3 separate regions of the Homo sapiens genome follow, and all the other regions are linked to region 2. The links come from fine-mapping of genetic effects on gene expression. A gene starts in region 2. Each other region holds a variant in brackets. All regions are shown on one strand. Distances are from middle to middle.

Region 1 (8,179 bases), 21 kb after region 2:
GAGTCAAAGCAGGGAGACTCACAGCCTTCCTTCCACTTGCAGGCGCCTGCAAGGAGAAAGCAGTAAGGCAGACGGTGCCGGAGCCATCTGGGCCATGGACTCTTGAAATTCACAAAATGCAACTCGCTTCCAAGACAAAGCCCTGCCCCGAGAAGAAATTGCTGGGGGTAGAATCCAAATTGACCAGGGCAGAAGCACAAAGGAAAACAGGTCCCAGTAAAAGGGAGAGAAGAGAACAGAGGCAGCAGGTTGCAGAAAGCAAGGGGCTGTGTTTACCATCTCTTCTCAGAACTATTAGGTTGGTGCAAAAGTAATTGCAGTTTTTTAGTTTTGCACCAACTTAATAAGAGCAGAGGGCGCTCTCAAGGGAGCTATCCTGGCCCACCTTTCCCCCAGAGATATTCAGAAAGATGCATCTCACTGTGGGGGGGAAATGATCAACAGGAAGGAAGTGTTGTCCAATCCCATACAGAGATGCTATACAAAAAGAGACAGGCCAGGCACGGTGGCTCATGCCTGTAATCCCAGCACTTTGGGAGGCTGAGGCAGGCAGATCACCTGAGGTCGGAAGCTTGAGACCAGCCTGACCAACATGGTGATACCCTGTCTTTACTAAAAATACAAAAATTAGCCAGGCGTGGTGGCACATGCCTGTAATCCCAGCTATTCAGGAGGCTGAGGCAGGAGAATTGCTTGAGCCCGGGAGGTGGAGGTTGCGGTGAGCCAAGATCTCGCCATTGCACTCCAGCTTGGGCAAAAAGAGCGAAACTCCATCTCAAAAATAAAAATAAAAAAGAGAGACAAAGGAGCAGAATGACAGCCCTACCCAGCCAACGATGGTGTGCCCAAAGGACATGTCCTCAAAACAGACAGAAGCAGTCACTTTAACATCGCACAACAAGCTGTGATTTTAGATATTAAGAAACTAATAGAAGTTATGGAAAATAGCATAAATCAAAACTAGAAAAACTCAGAAATGAAGCAATCGGTGAAAAGGAAAAGTTGTAAAGAGATGATGAAATCAGAAAGGAGTTTAAAAGAGAAAAGGAATTAAGAAATGAAGACTGAAACTAAAAGGAGTAGAAGGGCAAATGAGTACCACAAATAAAGCCTTAAGAGAAACAGACTAGGAAAAGCAGGCTGTTGAGGCTCATGTCTGCGGTCACAACTACTCGGGGACTGAGGAGGGAGGATCGCTTGAGCCCAGGAGTTCAAGTCCAACCTGCGCAAAACAAGACTCTTATCTAGAAAGAAGGGAAGGAAGGAAAGAAGGAAGGAAGGAAGGAAGGACGAGAGGGAGGGAGGGAGGGGAAGAAAGAGAGAGAGAAAAAAAGAAAGGAGGGAGGGAGGAAGAAAGGGAGGGAAGGGGGAAGAAAGAAGAAAGAAAGAAAGAAAGCAGAAAAAATTTTAAACCAAAAAGAAATGTTGAAGCCAAAAAAAAAAAAAGTCTAGAGAAAATTATAGCTATAGAAAATAGGCAAATAAGATTCAAGATACATACAATAGGAATCCCAGAAGAAAACCAAAGCAATGAAGCAGAACAAATAATAATTATAATTCAAGAAAATTTTTCTGAAATAATAAAATAAAATAAAAAATTTTTAAACTGAGTAAAGAACACCAATCAACAAAAGAAAACCAATCGACAATCCCCCCTGCCAAAAAAGAGGGGATTAAAGGTATCATATGAAGGTATTGGGGGAGGGTTGCCACAAGAATAAAAACACAAAGGTTCTCAACAACAAAATCTACACTAAACCAAGAAAGAGTAACGTGGCCCCGCCAGCACATCCCTCTAAGGCTGCAAGTCCTTGAATCCCCTTCTCTATAAGGTTCCTGGTAAGAGTTTAACAATGAGACGGGTTTTCTTTTTTTTTTTTCTTTGAGATGGAGTCTCGCTCTGTCTCCAGGCTGGAGTGCAATGGCGCGATCTCGGCACGATCTCTGCTCACTGCAATCTCTGCCTCCCAGGTTCAAGCAATTCTCCTGCCTCAGCCTCCTGAGTAGCTGGGATTACAGGCATGTGCCACCACGCCTGGCTAATTTTTGTATTTTTAGTAGAGGCTGGCTTTCACCATGTTGACCAGGATGGTCTCGATCTCTTGACCTTGTGATCTGCCCATCTCAGCCTCCCAAAGTGCTGGGATTACAGGCATGAGCCACCTCACCCAGCCTAGAGAGGTTTTCAAAAGACGTATAGTAGGCTGGGTGCAGTGGCTCACACCTGTAATCCCAGCACTTTAGGAAACAGAGGGAGGAGGGTTGCTTAAGGCCAGGAGCTCAAGACCAACCTGGGCAACATAGCGAGACCCTGTCTCTACCAGAAAAAAAAAAAAAAAAGAAATCATAAAAATAGCCAATTGTGGTAGCATAGGCCTGCCTGTAGTCCCAGCTACTCGGGAGGCTGAGGTGGGAGGATCATCTGAGCCCAGGAGTTGGAGGCTGCAATGAGCTACAATCACGCCACTCCAGTCAGCCTGGGCAACAGAGTGAGGCCCTATCTCTAAAAAAATATTTTTTTGGCCAGGCACAGTAGCTCATCCCTGTAATCCCAGCACTTTGAAAGGGTGAAGCAGGCAGATCACTTGAAACCAGGAGTTTGTGACCCAACCTGGCCAACACTGCAAAAACCTATCTCTACAAAAAACACAACAAATTAGCCGGGTGTTGTGCGTGCCTGTGGTCCCAGCTACTCGGGAGGCTGAGATGGGAGGATCGCTTGAGCCCAGAGGTTGAGGCTGCAGAGAGCCGTGATCATGCCACTGCACTGCACTCCAGCCTGGGTGACAGAGTGAGATCCTGTCTCAAAAAGAATTTTTTTTTTTTTTTTCTTGAGATGGAGTCTTGCTCTTTCACCCAGGCCGGACTGCAGTGGTGCTATCTGGGCTCGCTGCAATCTCCGCCTCCCAGGTTCACGCCATTCTCCTGCCTCAGCCTCCCGAGTAGCTGGGACTACAGGTGCCCGCCACTGCGCCCGGCTAATTTTTTGTATTTTTAGTAGAGATGGGGTTTCACTGTATTAGCCAGGATGGTCTCGATCTCCTGACCTTGTGATCTGCCCGCCTCGGCCTCCCAAAGTGCTGGGATTACAGGCGTGAGCCACCGTGCCTGGCCAAAAAGAAATTTTTTTAAACTAAAAAATTAAAAACCATATCCATCTGAGTTTGGAGAGGAAAGCAGGGCCACTCCATGCATTCCAGAGAAAAAGGGGCTTACTATAGAAATCAGTGCTTCCATAAATGCAGGAGGAGCTGGAGGGTGGGGCTGGGGAAGGTGTGGGAAGCTTGCTGCAGTCCTCATCAGCAATCACATGGGGTCAAGTGCCTGCAGAAGGCAAACAGGCAACGGTAGCTGTTGCAACAGAACGCGATGGTGAAATACAGAGTTTGCATCCTGTGAAGTTGGTGGCCTCCTCCTAT[T/C]GCACCGGAGAATTTGCTGGGGGAAAAAAATAGGAGCTCAGGGTTTTAAATATCCAGTTCAAGACCTAAAGTACCAGAAACCCTCCACTGGTGCTTGAAAAGAAGTCCATATCTCTTGTAGCCACAGAGTTGAGAGATCAAAAAAATAAACAAATCCAAACTCTGATCCCCTGGGTGGCAAAATAGAATCAAGTTCAACTACTACACTTGAACTCAGGGCCGCAAGTTTCTCTTCTGTGAAAGTCAGGGCACTGACGGGGAAAGAGTGGATCCCTGAATGGTGGAACGGATTCCATTTGGGAAGATTCTAATCCTAGGGTAGACTCTTCCTCAAGAGCCCCTACCACCTCCAGCTTCTAGATCGAAATCCCGGTGAGCTCCAGGAATGTGGCCACAAAATCTGACCCAGGAAGATGTACTATACACAACAAAAGAATTGCAAGCTATTTCCGGTTCATACTGGCAGAAACCTAGGAAATCTGTAGGGGAACAAACCCTAAGGGTGTCAGACCGGCGGGGTGGGGGAAGAAAGTAATGCCGGGTCAGGCTTAATTATTTTGATATGGTGCACTCACCAGAGATTCTGAGCTCCACGTGTCCACTCAGCACCTGGGAGTGGCTCTCAGAGTTGGCCCATTCCATCAACTGAAACCTGGAGCAGTGGTGACCCATGTTTTTATTTATTTATTTATTTGAGACAGAGTTTCACTCTTGTTGCCCAGGCTGGAGTGCAATGGCACGATCTCTGCTCACTGCAACCTCTTACTCCTGGGTTCAAGCGATTCTCCTGCCTCAGCCTCCTGAGTAGCTAGAATTACAGGCACCCGCCACCATGCCCAGCTAATTTTTGTATTTTCAGTAGAGGCAGGGCTTCACCCAGTTGGCCAGGCTGGTCTCGACCTCCTGACCTCAAGTGATCCACCTGCCTCGGCCTCCCAAGTGCTGGGATTACAGGCATGAGCCACCATGCCAGGCCTTGTTTTGTTTTTTGTTTTTTTTTTTGAGATGGAGTCTTGCTCTGTCACCCAGGTTGGAGTGCAGTGGCACAATCTCAGCTCACTGCAACCTCCATCTCCCGGGTTCCAGCAATTCTTCTGCCTCAGCCTCCCAAGTAGCTGGGACTACAGGTGCCTGCCACCACGCCTGGCTAATTTTTGTATTTTTAGTAGAGATGAGGTTTCACTATGTTGGCCAGGCTGTTCTCAAACTTCTGAGCTCAAGTGATCCACCCACCTCCATTCCCAAAGTGCTAGGATTACAGGCATGAGCCACTGCACCCAGCCCAGTGGTGACCCATTTTAAATGAAGATGGGATTCCAGGACTTCTTTGGAATTCCGTGGAGCAGAGTTTTTCTACTTCAGCACTATTGATATTTGAGGCCAGATGGCTCTTTGCTGTTGGGGGAGGTTGTGGGGACCTTAGCAGTATCCCTTGCCCACTCAATGCTAGAAACGTACCCCTCCCAGCCATAACAACCAAAGATGCCTCTGGACATTGCTAAGTGTCCCCATGGGGGGCAAAATCTCCCCTGATTGAGAGCCACTGCAGTAGAGAAAGGTGTCCAAAGAGTAGGGCCAAGCACAGTGGCTCACACCCAGAATCCCAGCACTTGGGAGGCCAAGACAGATGGATCACTTGAGCACAGGAGTTTGAGACCAGCCTGGGCAACAAGGTGAAGCCTCATCTCTACAAAAAAATGGAACAAATTAGCCAGGTGTGGTGGTGCGCACCTGTGGTCCCAGCTACTCAGGAGGCCTGAGCCCAGGAGGATGAGGCTGCAGTGAGCTGTGATCACACCACTGCACTCCAGCCTGGATGACAGAGAGAGACCCTGTCTCGAAAAACAAACAAACAAACAAAACCAAAACAGAAAAAAAAAAACCCAGAGTTAAGGAGAGGAATACTGGAGTGAATGTATCATGTACAGTCTACTCTGTTGTTTTTTTTTTTTTTTTTTTTTGAGATGGAGTCTAGCCCTGTCACCCAGGCTGGTGTGCAGTGGCGCAATCTCGACCCACTGCAACCTCCACCTCCTGGGTTCAAGCAATTCTCCTGTCTCAGCCTCCCAAGTAGCTGGGACTACAGGCTCCTGCCACCACGTCCGGCTAATTTTTTAAATTTTTAGTAGAGACAGGGTTTCACCATATTGGTCAGGCTGCTCTTGAACTCCTGACCTCAGGTGATCCACCTGCCTCGGCCTCCCAAAGTGCTGGGATTACAGGCGTGAGCCACTGCGCCCAGCCGCAATCTACTCTTTCATCCCCTAACTAGGCCCTCAGGAGGGCCCCTCACCCAAGCATTGAGAAAGACACTGGGTCAGGAACATCAGCATGTTTGAAGAGTTTGTAGTGGCTGCTCTCTGCAGGCTAGGAGTGACAGTGGGAGATGCTGCCATTGAAATGGGCTTCCTGAATTCAGTGAGGATGGTGGAATCCCAAAGTGGCGGGGCCAAGGGACAGTTCACCACGCAGACAGGGAGGGTGTCGTTACATCACAGAGAACTGGATTAATAATCAGAATGGCTTGACCCCCCACCCCCACCCCAGAGTTCCCTGGCAGTGGTTAACTCACCATGAAGAACCTAGGACTGAAACAGTTGGTTTTACCATGTAAAATTGCCAATGTTCAACCATTTTCTTTCTTTTCTTTTTTTTTTTGTTTTTTTGTTTTTTTGTTTTTTGTTGTTTTTTTTTTTTTGAGATGGAATCTTGCTCTATCACCCAGGCTGAAGTGCAGTGGCACGATCTCGGCTCATTGCTGCAACCTCTGCCTCCCGGGTTCAAGCGATTCTCCTGCCTCAGTCTCCCGAGTAGCTGGGATCACGTGTGTGCGCCACCACACCAAGCTAATTTTTGTATTTTTAGTAGAGATGGGGTTTCACCATATTGGCCAGGGTGGTCTCAAACTCCTGACCTAGTGATCCACCCGCCTTGGCCTCCCAAAGTGCTGGGATTACAGGTGTGAGCTACCGTGCCCGGCTGTTTAACCATTTTCAACAAGAAAAACTACAATTTAACATCATTCAGCCTAACATCTTGGCAACCTACTAAGATCTTACTTGACCTGATTAAGGAGCTCTGTGAACGGACAGCTGACTCGAGTCACTGTGGTGGAGGCTCGGCGCCCTGACCCAGTTCCCAGATTTTACCCAGAGCTCCTTGAATAAAGTGAGGCTGGGTCTCACTGAGGAAGGACGCTGCTCTGCCACCAAACATTTACAATGTACACACATTTTCCTTGCTGTCCCCAAAGGGACCTGTGCCATTTATCTGGGAAGAGTGAATATGGAAAGGCAAATACCCAGAGGGGAGGGCGGTCACAGGGAACTGAGTCTTAGCGGTACTCGTTGTGCCTGATGCACACAGCCACTGCGGTCCCACAGTCAAAGCAGGGGCTTTTGGAGGTCAAGCAATGAATGGGGTTTGTTCTGATCCGTCTCATGGGAGGCTCCGCAGGCCCTGAAACCCACCCTGTGGTTATTTTCTCATTCTGGAAAGTACAGTGGAAGAGGCACTCAGTGGTGTAGAAGCCATGGGGTGGCTCCTTGACTGGTAGAGTGAGGGCTACTATGGTAGAAAGGGCCACATGGATGCCACCAGCACTGCCTCTCTCTCCCAACATGGAAAACCAAAAGTCATATTGTGAACTTAGTCAAGCAGTAACTGCAACTTCATGTGCTTTTCTGGATGTAATGTTTTTATGGAGCAAATCAACACAGCTCCCAACACTCAATACCAATTATTTTTCTCTATACTCATTACTTAACAGAAACAGGCCAGGCGCGGTGGCTCATGCCTCTAATCCCAGCACTTTGGGAGGCCTAGGCGGAGGATCACTTGAGGTCAGGAGTTCAAGACCAGCCTGGCCAACATACCACAACCCCGTCTCCACTAAAAATACAAAAATTAGCCAGGCATGATGGTGCATGCCTGTAGTCCCAGCTACTCAGGAGGCTGAGGCACAAGAATTGCTTGAACCTGGGAGGCAGAGGTTGCAATGAGCCATCGTTGTACCACTGCACTCCAGCCTGGGCGATAGGGCAAGACTCTGTCTCAAAAAAAAAAAAAGAAAAAAATAGAAACAAATGAGAAGTGTGTTCCGTTGGGCAGTGACAGGAAAACACCTTTACCCCCTTACCTCAGGTCTACCAACTCTCCAGCCCTCTGTGACAGCTAGTTCTGGAGTACTTCCATTACCTCACCATTCCACAGGCTGACGAACCGACCCACTGTAGTGATAGCATGTGTGCGTTGGACCTGAGAAGAAACAGTAAATACCCGAGCCATCTTGGCAAGACACAGGCATGTCAGCCAGTGGGAAATGAACCCCACAAAACGCCTAACATCTCAGTGAAGTTTCTAGGGGTACAATGGTGGGGGGCGTGTTGAGATAGCCCCTTGAAGAGGAAGACCAGTTGCTGCACCAGGCACCCCCTCCTGTTAAGAAAGTGGCATGACCTTTGGTGGGGCTCTGGGTTTTGGTGCAGCTTACACCTCATTCAGGTGTGCTCTTCCGACCGACTCACTGGTAACCTGCAAGGCTGCTGCCAGTTTCAGGACCCAGAATGAGAGAAGCCTCTGCAATACATCCAGGCTGCTTTCAAGCTGTCATGCTATTGAGCCCAACAGACCCAACAGATCCAGTGGATCTTGAGGTGTCCGGGGCAAGTAGGGATTCTGTATGAGGCCTCTGGCAGGCTCCAACAGGTGTCACAGAAGAGACCACTGGGATTTTAGAGCAAAGACATGTCCTCTTCTGA
Region 2 (8,179 bases):
GCAGCTGGGCCCTGGACGGATTAGAGGTGTGAGGGGCCCCAGACAGAGGCAGGAGACCGGACCCCACCCTCACTCTGCCCGGCCCTGCTGCACTGCCGGGAGCAAGAGCCTTCCCTCCCTGTGGCTTTGGTGCCCACATGCACAGCCACGAGACCCACCCTGAGGACACCCGAATGTCTCCCCAGGGAAGCTCTGAAAGTGGCTACTGTTTATGTCCCCTGAGCACATCCTGGGATCGCTATGAACAGAAGCCACACTGTTTTGTTCCCTGCTGTATCTGCAGAGCCCAGAAGTCAAGCACACAGGACTCAAAGCTGATATATCCCATGAATAAATGAACAGCCCTGAGGGGAGCCTGGGGGGCCGGTGATCTGAGAGGCCCCACCTTACCAGATTCCCTGGGAGAAGACAAAATCTCTACCAGGAGAGATCTAGTGATACAAGCTTCTTAGACAAGAGACAAGCGGCCGAGTTCCGGGCCTCACTCCAGCCCCAGGACCACGGAAAGTACTCACATCCACCCAGGCCAGCCATCCCAGGCCAACAGTGGTGGGCACCCCTGGAACCATCCAGCACTCGTGGTTCCCTTTCGCCTGGCTTTTTGGTTGCTGGTTTGTAAAATTCTGGGTCTGGCCATCCTCCGTTTCACCCTGCAACAGCCCAAGGATCTCGTTCCAAACACTCAGAAGCACATCGCAGCTTCCCCTGGGCCCCCACTATTCCAGGCCCACACTCCACCCTGGTCTGGCACTGCAGGTTCCCACATTTGCCGGCCCGCCTCTCTCCTGCCTTTCAACCCTCAGTGCCACTCATTCCGAACTGGGCTCTGCCAAGGCCATGCTCTCCAAAGCCTCCAACCCTTTACTCAGGCTGCTGCTTCTGCCAGGAGCACCATCCCCCAATTTGTGAGTCCAGGGACTCCCTTGGGACAGCTCGCCCCGCCCTGAGCTCATCACCCTGGGGGACAATCACCTTTCCACACACCATCACCCACTGGGGCTGAAGGGTTCTGCAAGGCACAGAGGACAGCAGGGGCTGAGATGCTGCATCCGGCACACCAGGCCTCGACACGGCTTCCTAATCCAAGCCTCTGCCCCGCAACATCCAGGTCTGAGCTCCCGCTCCCCTGTTGCTCCAGGCTCCAGGCTGCACAACCTGTGTAGGGTCCTGACCATCATCCTCTGTGACCCTGGGCAAGTCCCTTAACCTCTAGGTGCTCCAGGTCCTCATGGACCCCCACCCAATAGGAGCTAAGTACAGACTGAATGACTTACTATAGCCAGAGTACTTTGCTAAGTGAGCCCTTCATAAGCATTCAGTTACTCTGAAAGCCTCTACAGCATCGCAATCCCTTGTCCTCTGACTTGTTTGATAACCAGTAAAAGTGTGATTTTTCTGACCCAGCAACAAGAGAAAACAACTGTTCTCAACCTTTGACCCCGGCCCCATCAGGTGGGGCCAAGTCAAAACGACCCAACAGCAGGGTCCACTGGGGTCCTTGGGGCACCCACAGCAGCAGCCCTCACCACAACCCGTTGGCAAGAGACCAACCACAGGACTTGCAAACCAGAGCACAGGGCCTTCATTTCAAAGCCTGGCACAGGCCTCAGCACAGAGACTGAATGAGCCTTTCGGAGTCTCCATGGCTCCATAGTCTGCCAGTCCTTGCTGGGGACCCTGGCCAAGGGGATTCAGAACACAGAGCGTCCTGTCCACGTTCTCAGAAGCCCTGGCTGAGGCCACAGCATAGGGACAAAGAGCGCTCCCCGAGAGCCTCCTCTTGTCAGCCACACTGCCCAGCAGAGCGGGTCTCACCTGCCAGGGAGGACCTGCAATGATCACAGAGCTTACCCAGGACGGCCACTGGCCCCCACACCAGCCCGCCGGGCCCTGTGCTGAGGACAAACTCTGGATTCTCTCTGAATCCTCACAATGCCCGCCAGGCAGTCCTTAGTATTATCTCCCTTTTACTGAGATTCGGAAAGGTGAAGCATGGCCAGGCACAGTGGCTCACGCCTGTAATCCCACCACTTTGGGAGGCCGAGGCAGGCAGATCACCCGAGGTCAGGAGTTTGAGACCACCCTGGCCAACACAGTGAAACCCCATCTCTACTAAAAATACAAAAATTAGCCAAGTGTGGTGGCGGGCGCCTGCAGTCCCAGCTACTTGGGAGGCTGAGGCGGGAGAATCGCTTCAACCCAGCAGAGGTAGAGGCTGCAGTGAGCCGAGATCACGCCACTGCACTCCAGCCTGGGTGACAGAGTGATACTCCATCTCAAAAAAGAAACAGAAAGGTTAAGCAACCTGCCAAGGTCACACAGCCAGTGCAGCCCCAGAAAGGCGCCCAGACCCCTAGACACAAAGTCTGTGTTCCCTGAACGGTGCCATATGCTGGGCGTCTCATCAAGGGGCCTGCCAGAGCTGCTCCCTGCAGATCTCCTTCCTGACTGGTCCCAGGAAGCACCTGAAGAACTTCCTGGAGGCAGCTTCTGAGGTGAGCAGACAGGGTGGCCACCTTGGCCTCTGGTTTTTCATCTCTCGTCAGGGTCCCCTCCTTGGCCCCTCATTACTCCATGGATGGGCACATGCCACAGACCAGTGGGTGGGCACCAGGATTCCAACCCAGTTCCTTCCAGACAGAGGAGGAAAGAAGGAAAGAGAGGCCAGAGAGGGAAGGAGCCAGGTGTGAATTCTCAGAGTGGTTCGAGCAGCAGCCGCACCAGAACAGAGGGCTGTGACCTTGGGCAGGTCTCAGGGCCTCTCTGGGCCTCAGTTTCCTCATCTGTGAAGTGAAGCTAAGGTCCTTCCACCTCTTAATCCAGAATCTCATTCCCCTGGTGTCAGCGAGGGGCGGACGCACCCCACCCTCGGGGGGCGGATTCAGCAATCTTCAGACCAGGACAAAAAACGGGAAGGGCAGGAGGGAGTGCAGAGGGGACTCTGGGGTGGCAGAGGGCAAGGAGAGGAAGCCGCCCCCGTCTAGGGGGCCCGCCCCAGCCCCACGGGAAGTGGGACGGGGAAAGGCACCCTACAAAGAAAGGACTCCTAGCTCCCAACTGGTTCGAATCCCACCTCGGCCACTTACTGGGTGTGTGACCTTGGGTAGGGTAACGCCTCTCTGTGAGCCTCTGCTTTTTCCAGAAGAAACGGGAAAAATCAAAGTGCTGCCTTCTCTGAGTCAATTAGGCGACCCTCATTACGGCGACAGTCGGGAAGTATGGGGTCTGGGCCCGCCCGGGCACACGGAGGGTGCCTGCCGCAGGTGGCCGGTTCCCTCGGGGCTGCCCAAGGCTGGGCGAGGGCCTCTTCGCCCAGCTGGTCGGGATCAGGACGCGACACGGAAGAGACCCCAGCTCTGCCCTGACCCCGGTCCGGGTCCGCAGGACGCAGCCCACTCGCCCTCAGAACACCGGCTCGCCTGGCACCCGGCGCGGCCCGGGCCCCGCTCGGACTCGAACCTGGTGGGGGCGCGCCCGGCAGAAAGCGGGGTGCTGGGACAGCGGGACCCCCACGCGCGACCCTGGTCTCCCGGGCCAGTCCCCTCCCCAGGTCCGGGCGGCTCACCAGGGCCGACTTGGATGCTGCGGTAAGTGGTCAGCCCCGCCGGCCAGTCGCCGCCACCGCCGCGGGCCCCGCCCAGCAGGGGCTCCGACTCCGCCTGGGGTTCCGCCATCCAGCAGCCCACGCGCTGGACCCGACCCTCAGAAGCTCAAGCCCCGAAGGCGCCCAGCTTCACTGCGCAGGCGCGGAGACCCCGTCCCTGGCGTTTTTGCTGACGCGCGCACGGCACTGTGGCGCAGGGGATCCCTGCAGTCCCAGCCAATGAGAACGGGGAGGGAGGGGTGGGGTTCTCCTGAGTGGGGCGGAGCTAAAGGGCCCCGCCCCTCTAGGGTGGAGCTCAGCTTCGTTCCACCCAGGGCGGGGCAGCGTTCTGGGGCTTAAGGGCCGAGGGCTGGGGAGGAAATATGTTCTCAAAGGATGTCTTTCCGGCCAGAAGCTTCAGCATCACCTGGAAACATTTTAGAAATGCAAATTCTTGGGCCCTTAAACCTACTAAATCAGCAACTCTGCGGGGAGGACCCAGGAATCTGTGTTTTAACAAGCATTCGGGGTGATTCTGATGCATGTGAGTATTGAGTACACGGGGTGACTGCAAAGGACTCCCCCCAGAATGGAACTGGAGTTTACCCTCTGATGGTGAAATTAGGAGGATTCAATATCATTAAGGGAAAAGTTTAAAAACATATGACACACTTAAAAAATATTTACAACGTATATAAAAAGTGTTTTCAACATTAATGCATAAAGACCTTGTATTCGTTTTCTATTGCTACAGTGACTAATTACCACAATCTGAAAATATAAAATAACTCCCATTCATCATCTTTCAGTCCTGCGGGGCAGGAAACCTCCTGTCTCAGGGCCTCACGAGGCTAGAGTCAAAATGTCAGCTGCCGTGGGCTCTTATCTGCAGACTCTGGGGAAAGCCCACTTCCAGGCTCATCCAGGATGTTAACAGAATTGTCTCCATGGGCCTAGGACTGAAGTCCACGTCTTCTTGCTGGATGTTGGCTGGTGTCATTCTCACTCCTAGAGGCCACTGCATTCCTTCCACGATGGCTTGAACACCTCCATCATCAGAGCCAGCAAGCAAGAGCACGCTGAAGACGCTTCGAGATGCAGCAAGACGCCTGTAATCCCAGCCCTTTGGGAGACCGAGGCAGGTGGATCACGAGGTCAGGAGATCGAGACCATCCTGGCCAACATGGTGAAGCCCCGTCTCTACTGAAATACAAAAAGTTAGCCAGACGTGGTGGCACGTGTCTATAGTCCCAGCTACTCGGAGGCTGAGGCAGGGGAATCGCTTGAACCCGGGAGGCGGAAATTGCAGTGAGCTGAGATTGCGCCACTGCACTCCAGCCTGGCAACAGAGCGAGACTCCATCTCAAAAAAAAAGGTGCTGCAAGACGCTTCCAATCTCTGTGACTTCCCCTTCTGCCATACCTCTTTACTTTTTCCCCCTCTTTTGGGGAGGGGGGAGGGTTTAAAATAAATATAAAATTTACCATCATAACTGTGAAAGGAAAATAAATCTCAGGACTCCAAAATCACTAAGCCAAAGGGAAAAGTCAAGCTGGGAACTGCGTTGGGCAAACTGCCTCGCCTTTTCTTCTTTAATAAAATAGCTACGAAGATTTAAAAAGCTACATACCTCCCTCACAATTTGCCCGCTAGGAAATTTTTCGTGGGCACCCAAGATCTTTACCCTAAAACAGTTTTGTTGAATTTTACCCTAACAATGTACATTGACAACTGATCTTCACAGGTTCCAAACAAAGGATGGAACTCTAAGTCATCCCTCTGCTCACCTGATTGCTTCCTCTGGTATAAAAGTGCAGATTCACCGAGCCAGACTAAGGCATAAGTGACTATTCCTCTACCCCCGCAACCTGTAAATTGTGTATTTCAGTGAAAGTCTGATCAAAGACTCACAAGAATGCAACCTTTGTCTCTTATCTCTCCACATATTTTTAAAATTTCTCCCTCTTTCCCAATATCCACCCTTTCCCTTTTTTTTTTTTTTTTTTTTTTTTGAGACAGAGTCTTGCTTCGTTGCCCAGGCTAGAGTGCAGTGGTGCGATCTCAGGTCACTCAGCAACCTCCGCCACAGCACCTGGCCAGTTTCCCCTTTAAATATTGAAGTCCTACAAATCATCCTTGAAGGAAGGCATAGACCTGCCTCCCAGGCACTCCTTAACCTTGGCAAAATAAACTTACTAAATAGATCGAGACCTGTCTCAGATATTTTTAGTTCACATAACTATATTGAAGTGTACAGCTCATTGATATTAAATATATTAATGATGCTATACAACTATCACCTCCAACTCCAGAACTCTTTTTATCTTGCAAAACTGAAATTCTGGACCCATTAAGCACTGACTCCTCATTCCCTCAGCCCCTGGAAACCACCATTCTCCTTTCTATCCCTAAGATTTTGGCGACTCTAGGTTCCTCATTTAAGTGGAATCCTGCAGTATTTGTTCTTTTGTGACTGGCTTATGTCATTTAGCCTAAAATCCTCAAGGTTCATCCATGTAGCATGTGTCCAAATTTCCTTCCTTTTTAAAGCTGAATAATACTCCACTGTATGTATCCATGACATTTTGCTTATCCAGTCATCCATGGATGGGCACTGGGTTGCTTCCACCTTTTGACTATTGTGAATAATGCTGCTGTGAACATGAGTGTACAAATAATTCGTCAAGACTCTGCTTTCAGGCCAGGTACAGTGGCTCATGCCTGTAATCCCAGCACTTTGGGAGACCAAGGCAGGCGGATCACCTGAGGTCAGGAGTTCGAGACCAGCTTGACCAACATGGTGAAACGCCGTCTCTACTAAAAATACAAAAATTAGCCAGGCATGGTGGCAGGCGCCTGTAATCCCAGCTACTCAGGAGGCTGAGACAGGAGAATCGCTTGAACCTGGGAGACAGAGGTTGCAGTGAGCCAAGGGCTCATATGATTATGTCTGAGGCATTCGAACCAGAGCGACTCCATCTTGAGTTAGGACTAGGAAAAATGAGGCTGGGACTTGCTGCGACTCCATCTTGAGTGAGGACTAGGAAAAATGAGGCTGGGACTTGCTGCGACTCCATCTTGAGTGAGGACTAGGGAAAATGAGGCTGGGACTTGCTGCGACTCCATCTTGAGTGAGGACTAGGAAAAATGAGGCTGGGGCTTTATCAGGCTGCATTCCCAGAAAGTGAGGCGTTCACAGTTAAGGGAACAGATTGATAATGTTTACTAAGCAGACCTAGACTTGGGAGTGTGCTGATATCCTGATATCTTCAGAACAGAAGCATCCCTAATTTTGCTTTAAAGGTAATAATATCAATTCTTGCAAAATACAGTAATTAGGAAAATTCTTTATCACAAACCCCAGTGGCAGAGCACGTGTCCTCATGATCTTTGATCTTTTTTCATCCTATATATAAACGAGTATTATACCTAGGGTGGACACGTTCCTCCTTACTTTCCGGAACGTCCTAACTCTGTCTATGGAGCAGCTGTTCTGTCACCACTTTACTTTCTTTTCTTTTTTTTTTCTTTTTTTTTTTTTTGAGACAGAGTCTCGCTCTGTCGCCAGGCTGGAGTGCAATGGCACGACCTCAGCTCACTGCAACCTCCGCCTCCCAGGTTCAAGGGATTCTCCTGCCTCAGCCTCCTGAGTAGCTGGAATTACATGCACACGCCACCACGCCCAGTTAATTTTTGTGTTTTTAGTAGAGACGGGGTTTGACCATGTTGGCCAGGCTGGTCTCGAACTCCTGACCTCAGGTGATCCACCCGCCTAGGCCTCCCAAAGTGCTGGGATTACAGGAACGAGCCACCGCACCCAGCCTACTTTACTTTCTTAATAAACTTGTTTTTGCATTGCACTGTGGACTTGCCCTGAGTTCTTTCTTGTGGGAGATCCAAGAACCCTCTCTTGGGATCTAGATCAGGACCTCTTTCTGGTAACAATTACACTGGGCTCATCAGATAATCTAGGATGATCTCCCTAATTTAAGATCAGCTCATTCGTGACTTCAATCGCATCTACAAAATCCTTTTTGCCATCTCATCTAGCACAACCACAGGCAGGACACCAGGAGTGAAGATCATGGGTGCCAAAATTCTGCTTCCTGCAGAGCCTTTAAAATCCCATACATTCAGCCTTAAATTCCACATATGGGAAAAGACTTGAACCAGAAGTTCCCAAGAAAGAGGAAATATCAGTGAGGAATGCCTAAAATAAAGCTCCACCTCATTAGGCTACAAAGGGATGCAAATTAAAGTAACAATGAAATCACTGAACTCCTAAGTCAGCAAATGTTTAAAAGATGACACAGCTCTGGGGAACAGAGTGGGGTCGAGAGAGATCTCAGGATGTGGCCACAGGTTTGAGTTTTGTTTTTGTTTTGTTTTTTGTTTTGTTTTGTTGTGACAAGGAGCATACATTTTAAAACATGAAAAAAAGTATAAGATATTTTTATTTCGAAGAAAGGAAATAATAGATGCACGCAGCTGTCTGCAAAAACGGCACATCCCAATAAATTGTCTTTATTGCCGCTAAAGAATTCCCTTGATGTTTGGGTACACAACCCCAGAGGCCCTAGTGGAATGTGGTTCCCA
Region 3 (8,150 bases), 31 kb before region 2:
CTACCGACAGAGCAGTGAGCCGGCCCGGCACTGCCTTCCGCCAGCCTCCCAGCCTCCCACTCCAGTGCATAACCCGCCACCAGCAGCAGCCTGGGACTCACCACCAGGATCCCGCCAAACGCACGCATGTTCTGCACCAGGCCCAGGACGGTACTGGCCACCACGGCCATCAGCTGAGGACAGGAAGAGAGCACAGCCCTTACTCCTCCTGGCCCCACTGAGGGGACACCATCCCGGCCCACCACGCTGACCCTGACAGAAAGGCAAGATGGGGCAGGCCAATGACCACCAACCCACACACACACACCTGGACCCACAGCCACCCCCACACGCCTCTACACACCCACACAGCCTGTCAGGCCCCCACGTCCACCCATACACACCCTCGCACCCCAACACCTACATCTACCCACACGCATTCGCACACGCTTGCATCGCCACCCGCACGCACTCACTCACCCACTCCCGCATCCCAACACCTCCACCCCAGCCTCATTCAAGCACGGACTTCAAATTCCTGTGGGAGGCCCTTCTCTGCCTCCCAACCCACTGCAGGTGGGTCAGCTACTCTGTGGCCTGGAGACGCCAAAGAAATGCAGAGCTAGAGGTGGCAGGAGCACCTGCAGGAACTGAGTCTGAGAAGGGGCCTCTGAGAACCAGCAGGGAGGCCCCGGCTCCAAAGAGCCGCTCCTCCTCATCACAGCCTAGCCGGGAGAAAGGCCTTCACATCAGCCCCATCAACCCACCTGAGGAATCCAAACTAGACAACACAGCTGAACGCCACAGTGGAGACCAGTCAGCATGTACGTGTGCACACGTTGCGTGTCATCGTGAGCATGTATATACTCACGTGAGAGGTCCTGGGAAACTGCGACTTCAAGCAAAACGGCATGATTGCAGGGTCTGCTGTGCGCCATTTCCCTTAAAGTCACAGTTTCCAAGAACCTGTGGATAGCACTGAGGCCTTACTGTGGATGTGTGCACACACGATCATGCATCTTACACGGGCACAAGTTCACATGGATATCTGCATGCGATGTGTGCACACACGATCATGTGTCTTACACGGGCACGAGTTCACAAGGATATCTGCATGCGATGTGTGCACACACGATCATGCGTCTTACACGGGCACGAGTTCACAAGGATATCTGCATGCGATGTGTGCACACACGATCATGCATCTTACACGGGCACGAGTTCACGTGGATATCTGCACGCGATGTGTGCACACACGATCATGCGTCTTATCCGGGCACGAGTTCACATGGATATCTGCACGTGATGTGTGCACACACGATCATGCGTCTTACACGGGCACGAGTTCACATGGATATCTGCACGCGATGTGTGCACACACGATCATGCGTCTTACACGGGCACGAGTTCACATGGATATCTGCACGCGATGTGTGCACACACGATCATGCGTCTTACACGGGCACGAGTTCACATGGATATCTGCACGCGATGTGTGCACACACGATCATGCGTCTTACCCGGGCACGAGTTCACATGGATATCTGCATGCGATGTGTGCACACACGATCATGCGTCTTACCCGGGCACGAGTTCACATGGATATCTGCATGCGATGTGTGCACACACGATCATGCGTCTTACACGGACATGAGTTCACATGGATATTTGCATGTGATTATCTGTGCATACGGTGATGCGGGCGTGCGTATTAATGTACGTGTGTATGTGCATGATGATGTGTATTGTATCCAAACATGATTGTATATGTGTGACTGTGTATGATCATGTGTGCCTGTGATTGTGTGTGTATATGCATGTGCATGGTCACATGTGTGGTTGTGTGTGAGATCACGTGTGCTTGGCTGTATTGTATATATGTATGATTGTGCTTGTATGGCTGTAATTATGTGTGAACACGTGTGCGCGTGTGTGTGCGTATGAAGGTCCCAGCACAGCAGCCCCGTAGGAAGGCTCAGGACCCCTGAGCTGCCTTCAAGTGGGACATACTGTCAGGTGGGACAGGTGCACAGCTCAGAGGAAGGATGAACGGGGACAGAGGAGGGACCTGGACACTCAGAACATGGGTCTTAGGACATGATGCCAGGAGCAGCAAGGCCCAGACCCCCGACCTCTGCCTGCCTGCCCCTTTAAGGTGCCCATTGCTCCTAACCGGTGCATTAAGAGAAACCAGCCCTCAGAGATGGTCATGAGCCACCTGCGCCCGCATTAGAGGATCCTGGAAACAAGCTCCCTGGCCAGGGATACCACTGCCCCTCATTAATAGCACCCTGGGAGCCATGGCAAAGGCCTTTCTGGGAACCTCAGAGACCTGGGGGAGCACTGGTGTCCAGGGCTCCAGCCCCAAGGAGCTCCTGCCACTGGCCAAAGCATTGCACCCGCCACACCCTTGCCCGCCTTCCTCTCCCAACCCAGAAATGCAGGGCTGGGCTCTCCTGCTTCTAATGACCCTTCCCCAGCATCACAAGAGCACGGCAGAGAGCTGAGGGTGCAGCCAGGGAGCCCAGGGTGACGGGCACAGTCCTCGGGCCCTTCCTGCCCCAGGCTCACCCACCCTGGAGCAACGCAGCAGCATGACCCAGGAGGGTGGGGCGAGTGGGGGTGGGGCCGGCACACACCTTCATGCTGGGGATGATACGCAGGAAGCGGAACACGATGAGCATGTTCAGCATGCGGGTCATGTCCCACAGCGACAGCAGGCCCACCATCTCCGGCCTCCTGGGGAGAGACACGGGAGGCGGGTTGGGAGGAGCCCAGGAGCCCCACAGGGAGGAGACAAGGAAACGCGCGGGTTCCTGGACGGAGGCGCAGGGAGGGCAACAGGGCATGACGGGAGTGCACCCCACAGCCAACACCGAGCAGAAAAGCCTCTGCAGGGTGGCGAGAGGGCGGGGCCTGGGCTACTCACTGCTCCGCTTCCACCTGCAGCCCCGGAGCGACCCCCATCCCCCCAACACCTTCCCAGCCAGCCCTTGCGGGAAGGCTGCAGCCCTCCTTCTACACAGACCCTCTGTCCACACGGGAGGGCATGGAGGTTCCAGACACTGAGACTTGCTCCAGCTCAGGCCCCAGCAGAACTGCGTGAGCCCATGTCTCCTGCCCCGGTCTCCTGCGCCAGCCCCATCCCCTGGTTCCTGCCCCCATCGCCCACCTCCTGTCCCATGACCCTGACCCTGACCCCATCCCTGACCCAAGCCCCGCTTGGCATCCCTCATGGTCTTTCCATGCTTTCATTTCTGTTGAAACTCAAACCCATTCTCACCCACAGTGTCAGCCCCCCAAGGTAATGACTCAGAACAAAGTGCAGCGGGCATGCTCAGTGCACATGAAAGACAAGGCAATGCCAGCCCCACGGCACAGCACAGTGGCACTGCCTGCCTTCCTGAGGTAAGTTCTGGGGGGCTTCCTAGGGAGCTGACGGAATAGCAAGGCTCTTGCTGTCCACCGTCCCCACCCCCACCAAGCGACTCCCAGCTGCTCCCTAGGCAGTGGGGTGGATGACACAGCACACAGAGACCCAAGGAGCCCGGCCTAA[C/A]CACAGGGCCGAGGCTGGCATGCTGGGCCCCGTGCCCCACCCTTCCTGTCTCATCACGGGCACACCAGAGCCACGCTCTCAGGGCAGAGCAGCCTGGCTGACAGCCCTGTGGTGCCACGAGGCTCCAGGGTCCCTGCCCAGGTTGTCTCTTCATGGCCAGAACCCCGGGCAGTGGTGAATCAGCACACAGCCTCAGAGTTCAGTGAGCCCCGGGCCCCTAGCTCCACTATTTTAAGGAGGCTAAAGTGATGTCCAGAGTGGGAGGCGATGACTCAAGGTCACACTGTGAGGCAGGGGCTCTCCCAAGGACCTTCCCGCCAGCAGAGGGGCCCAGCCGAATCCCAGTGGTCACAGGTCCCCTGAGACCTGAGCCAGGGGCATCTCTGCTGCCAGCCCCCAGCATGTGTGCTGGGAGGGGGAGCCCACTGCCGCCCGGGAGGGCATCTCCAAGGGGGAACAACGGCTTCCCTCCACAGCCTGCGGGGTGCCAGCTTCTGGAGAGAGGACCCCCAGAGCGACGGCAGGGCCCTGCCCCGACACAGCCTCTGCTGTGGGATCGGCCCACCCATTCCACCATCACGGGGTCTGCCCTAGAGTCAGAGCAGACCCAGCCCCCTGGACACCACTGAGACCCTCCCAGGGGCGCTGGGTGGTGGTGCTGTTTGCTGTAGCCGCCCTCGGTTCTGCCCAGTCACATACCAGCCTGGGTGTGGCAATCGGTACACAGCCAGAGTTGAGATCTCCAAAACCTTTAATTACAAAAGAAAAGAAGGCTTCGCTACAGCAACACTAATCTGGGCGGCCCTTAAAGGAATTATTATAAAGCTCATCTCTAACACATTCTCCCCAAAAGGGGCTTTTGGGGAGAAATCAGAGCTTGGTCCTGGACCCCACGGGTTGGTTCCAGATGTCAGGACTTCTTTCAGCTGGAAAGACACCCTGGCCTCAGGAATCGGGGGACTGCACAGATTGGGGTGGCAGAGGTGGCAGAGAAGATACTGAGTCAAGGACAGACTGCAGGGCCCTTTTCAAATTTCTCTTCACCTATGTGCCGAGGGGCCTGCTGGCTACAGCAAACGTCACTCTCATGTGGCTGCTTGTGACACACACACCAAGTGTGGCATGCCCTCACTCCCACTGGGTCTGGGGAAAGGAAGTGTAAGCATTTCCCAAGAACACCCTGGTGCCTGAGAGCCCCCTGGCCCCTCGCTCCACCCATGCTGAGGTCACACCGTCTATCAGTGACGTTTAAGAGGCTGTTCCCCGGGCTGGAGTCGCTGGCCAGGGCTACAAGTCCTTCAGGGCTTCCCCTGGGGGTCGGGAGGGGCAGCCTGCCCCCCATGACACTCGGATGCAGTAGAAACCCAGCCTCCTAAAGACCTCACCGGCTGCCCACTGAGCAACTCGGCCAGCAGGGAAGCCAGCCCTCACCACTGAGAGCAGAAGCCCACCTTCCTACAGCCTCTAGTCCTCAGGGGAGGCCTGAGATGGGCCAGCACAGAGCCCAGGTGGCGCTCACCCACCCGCCCAGTAGAGGCCGGCCTCGGATGCGCCTACTTTACCAGCAGGACAACGGTGAGGAGCCCGTCAAACACGTTGCTGGGGTAGGACAGGTACCCTCGCAGGCCCAGGGCAAAGACCTTGAGCAGCATCTCCAACAGGTAGTACACAATGAAGACGCAGTTGAGAATCTGAAAGGGGCAGAAGAGGCACCCAGCATTGGGCCCCAGGGCTGCCAGCACTGCCCAGCCTCACCCTGGCCCTGACAGGTGGACAGCTCAGAACTTACCCCCAGGATGAAGTCATCACGCTCAGCAGGCAGCACATCTGCATCCAGCACCAGGAACACCTGCAACGCCAGAACAGAGGGCTCGCCGGCTGGCCCAGCACAGCGCTGGGCGAGGCAGGAGGGGCAGGCTCCCCTGCAAGGTGGGCGGGAACCGGCACTTCCGTGCCAGCTCTGGGGCAAATCCACACTCACGCAAATGGACACCAGGTTTGCCAGGGCGATGAGGTTCCCCAGGTAGTCAAAGTAGTAGTGGCCGAAGAGGAACTGGGCGCTCTGCAGAAACGGAGACTGGTACTCGGGCCTCGGCGGGTGCTGGGCAAGGAACACACGTGCTCAGAAGCACAGGCCAGCAGCCGTGGCTGTTGCAGCCCAAAAATGCTCACACCCTCTTATTCTGGGATTTGATTTTTTCCTACCCCATCTCCCGTCCTATCTATCCAGCCACAGGAAATAATCCCAGACACAGAAATCGCTTTATACACAAAGGTGTTCATCTCAGTGGTCTTTGTAACACCCAAAGAGAAATAGAAGCAACTGAAACATCCACTGAGGCTGTAAGTAAACCATGTTGTGATATTAGAGTCACCTGAAACATACGCAAAGTGTCACCCTGATATATATAAAAAAAAAAAAAGCTGTGTGAAAAAACACAGGTAAGTGATATACTCATAGCTACAGAAACTCAGCACAGAACCAACTCCTGTACTGTGGCCAGCAGCAGCAGGAGGCAATGAGGGGCAGGCGGGCAGACGCTGCCACTGTCAGGACCCTTGTGAGACCCAGCACTTCCCACGCTCAGCAGCCTCCTTGAGACACGTCTGTGTGTGCAAGAGGTCAACAAGGGGAATGGCCTAAACATTTCTCAGCAAGGAGACCTGCACCCGCTGTCCCACACGGGAGCCACTGACCACCGGCGGCTATTTCATGAAAATTTCAATGCAACAAAATTCAACACTCAGTTCTTCGGTGGCAACAGCCACGTGTCAAGTACTCCACAGCCACATGTGACACGTGGCTACAGCTCATCCCCCCAGAAAGTCCATATGAAAATGGAGAGGGTAAGAAGACATGGCTGCGTGAACAGGCAGGCTGCAGAGTGAAAATCGCAATGCTTCATGTATACGTCAAAGAAGAACAAAGCAACTGTTTCCCCAGGTAACTACAAATGCCTGAAATTACACAGGGAAAAGTCTGGAAGGAAAACACCAAAATATCCAGTTGAATAGAGTGGCTATTCTCCAGTGAGACCCAAACTGGTGGTGCCAATGATCAGCGAACTTCCTCTCGGCTCCCGACATCCTCCTCGATACGCACTCTGCCACAACGGGCAGGGTCCCTTTCAGCGTCTCATCCACAGTGAACGGGAGTTGAGGCTTTCTTAGCGGAGGGGCTGGAGGGACACAGCAGGAGGGCAGGAGGGCAGGTGGAGGGACATGGCAGGAGGGCAGGTGAAGGGACACAGCAGGAGGGCAGGTGGAGGGACACGGCAGGAGGGCAAGTGGAGGGACATGGCAGGAGGGCAGGAGGGCAGGTGGAGGGACGTGGCAGGAGGGCAGGTGGAGGGACATGGCAGGAGGGCAGGTGGAGGGACATGGCAGGAGGGCAGGTGAAGGGACACGGCAGGAGGGCAGGTGGAGGGACACGGCAGGAGGGCAGGTGGAGGGACATGGCAGGAGGGCAGGAGGGCAAGTGGAGGGACATGGCAGGAGGGCAGGAGGGCAAGTGGAGGGACATGGCACGAGGGCAGGTGGAGGGACATGGCAGGAGGGCAGGAGGGCAGGTGGAGGGACGTGGCAGGAGGGCAGGTGGAGGGACATGGCAGGAGGGCAGGTGGAGGGACACAGCAGGAGGGCAGGTGGAGGGGCATGGCAGGAGGGCAAGTGGAGGGACATGGCAGGAGGGCAGGAGGGCAAGTGGAGGGACATGGCATGAGGGCAGGAGGGCAAGTGGAGGGACATGGCACGAGGGCAGGAGGGCAGGTGGAGGGACATGGCAGGAGGGCAGGTGGAGGGACACGGCAGGAGGGCAGGTGGAGGGACACAGCAGGAGGGCAGGTGGAGGGACACAGCAGGAGGGCAGGTGGAGGGACACGGCAGGAGGGCAGGTGGAGGGACACGGCAGGAGGGCAGGTGGAGGGACACGGCAGGAGGGCAGGTGGAGGGACACCGCAGGAGGGCAGGTGGAGGGACACGGCAGGAGGGCAGGTGGAGGGACAGAGCAGGAGGGCAGGTGGAGGGACAGAGCAGGAGGGCAGGCCTCCCCTGCGGTTTCCGGATGCTACGGGGTGGATCGGAGTGTGGTGTTAAGCACATCTGGACACGCTCTGTCCGAGACACATAGTCCCCAGGGGACCTACAGCCACAGCCTGACCTCCTGAAAATTTCCCAGCTTCCCACAGTCCTCAATGTGGAAACCAGTGCCCAAAGGCCACCTGCCCACACTGGCACCGAATTCCCTCGGCAGGACCACGCCACTGCCTGCTCACAGCCTGGGCCTGCTGCACCCAGGAGGGTCGCCTCCTGCTTACCCAGTGACCACAAACCAACCGCAGCCCGGGGAAGCCAGTGAACGTCTCTGCATTCCTGTGGGCAAAACCACACCTGCTCTCAAGAGGTCTGAACCCCAGCTTCGGAGGGTCCCCTTCCAGGTCCATCCTTCCTCATGCACTCCCCTCAGCCCAAGGACACCACATGGTTTCCTTACATCTTGCAGTTACTCTTTTATCGTAGTTGCCACTGCCGTACATGACACTTTCTGTTTAACCCAGACGGACACCTTGGCCAAGAGAGATTTCAGCATTATCTATTACGTCTAAATTGTTACAAG

The links.
Region 1: its variant is fine-mapped to the expression of TPCN2 in whole blood (TOPMed, PIP above 0.99).
Region 3: its variant is fine-mapped to the expression of TPCN2 in whole blood (INTERVAL, PIP 0.96).

Annotation. Positions count from the first base shown.
Region 1 is chr11:69,023,347-69,031,525 of GRCh38, reverse strand. No RefSeq gene overlaps it. Among named protein-coding and RNA genes, the nearest start is that of MRGPRF, 14 kb to the right of the region's middle. The variant T/C (reference allele first, on the strand shown) is at 3,420.
Region 2 is chr11:69,044,493-69,052,671 of GRCh38, reverse strand. TPCN2 (two pore segment channel 2) reads right to left here and starts at 3,740. Exons shown (of 25, transcript NM_139075.4): 1 at 3,566-3,740. The coding sequence starts at 3,674. RefSeq lists enhancers at 762-1,336, 7,660-8,179 and silencers at 3,313-3,412, 3,493-3,662, 3,783-4,002.
Region 3 is chr11:69,075,968-69,084,117 of GRCh38, reverse strand. It overlaps TPCN2 (two pore segment channel 2), which reads right to left. Exons shown (of 25, transcript NM_139075.4): 14 at 5,517-5,636; 15 at 5,325-5,384; 16 at 5,098-5,226; 17 at 4,235-4,284; 18 at 2,619-2,718; 19 at 102-173. It overlaps MIR3164 (microRNA 3164), which reads right to left and starts at 942; the gene lies at 860-942. RefSeq lists an enhancer at 3,154-4,353. The variant C/A (reference allele first, on the strand shown) is at 3,536.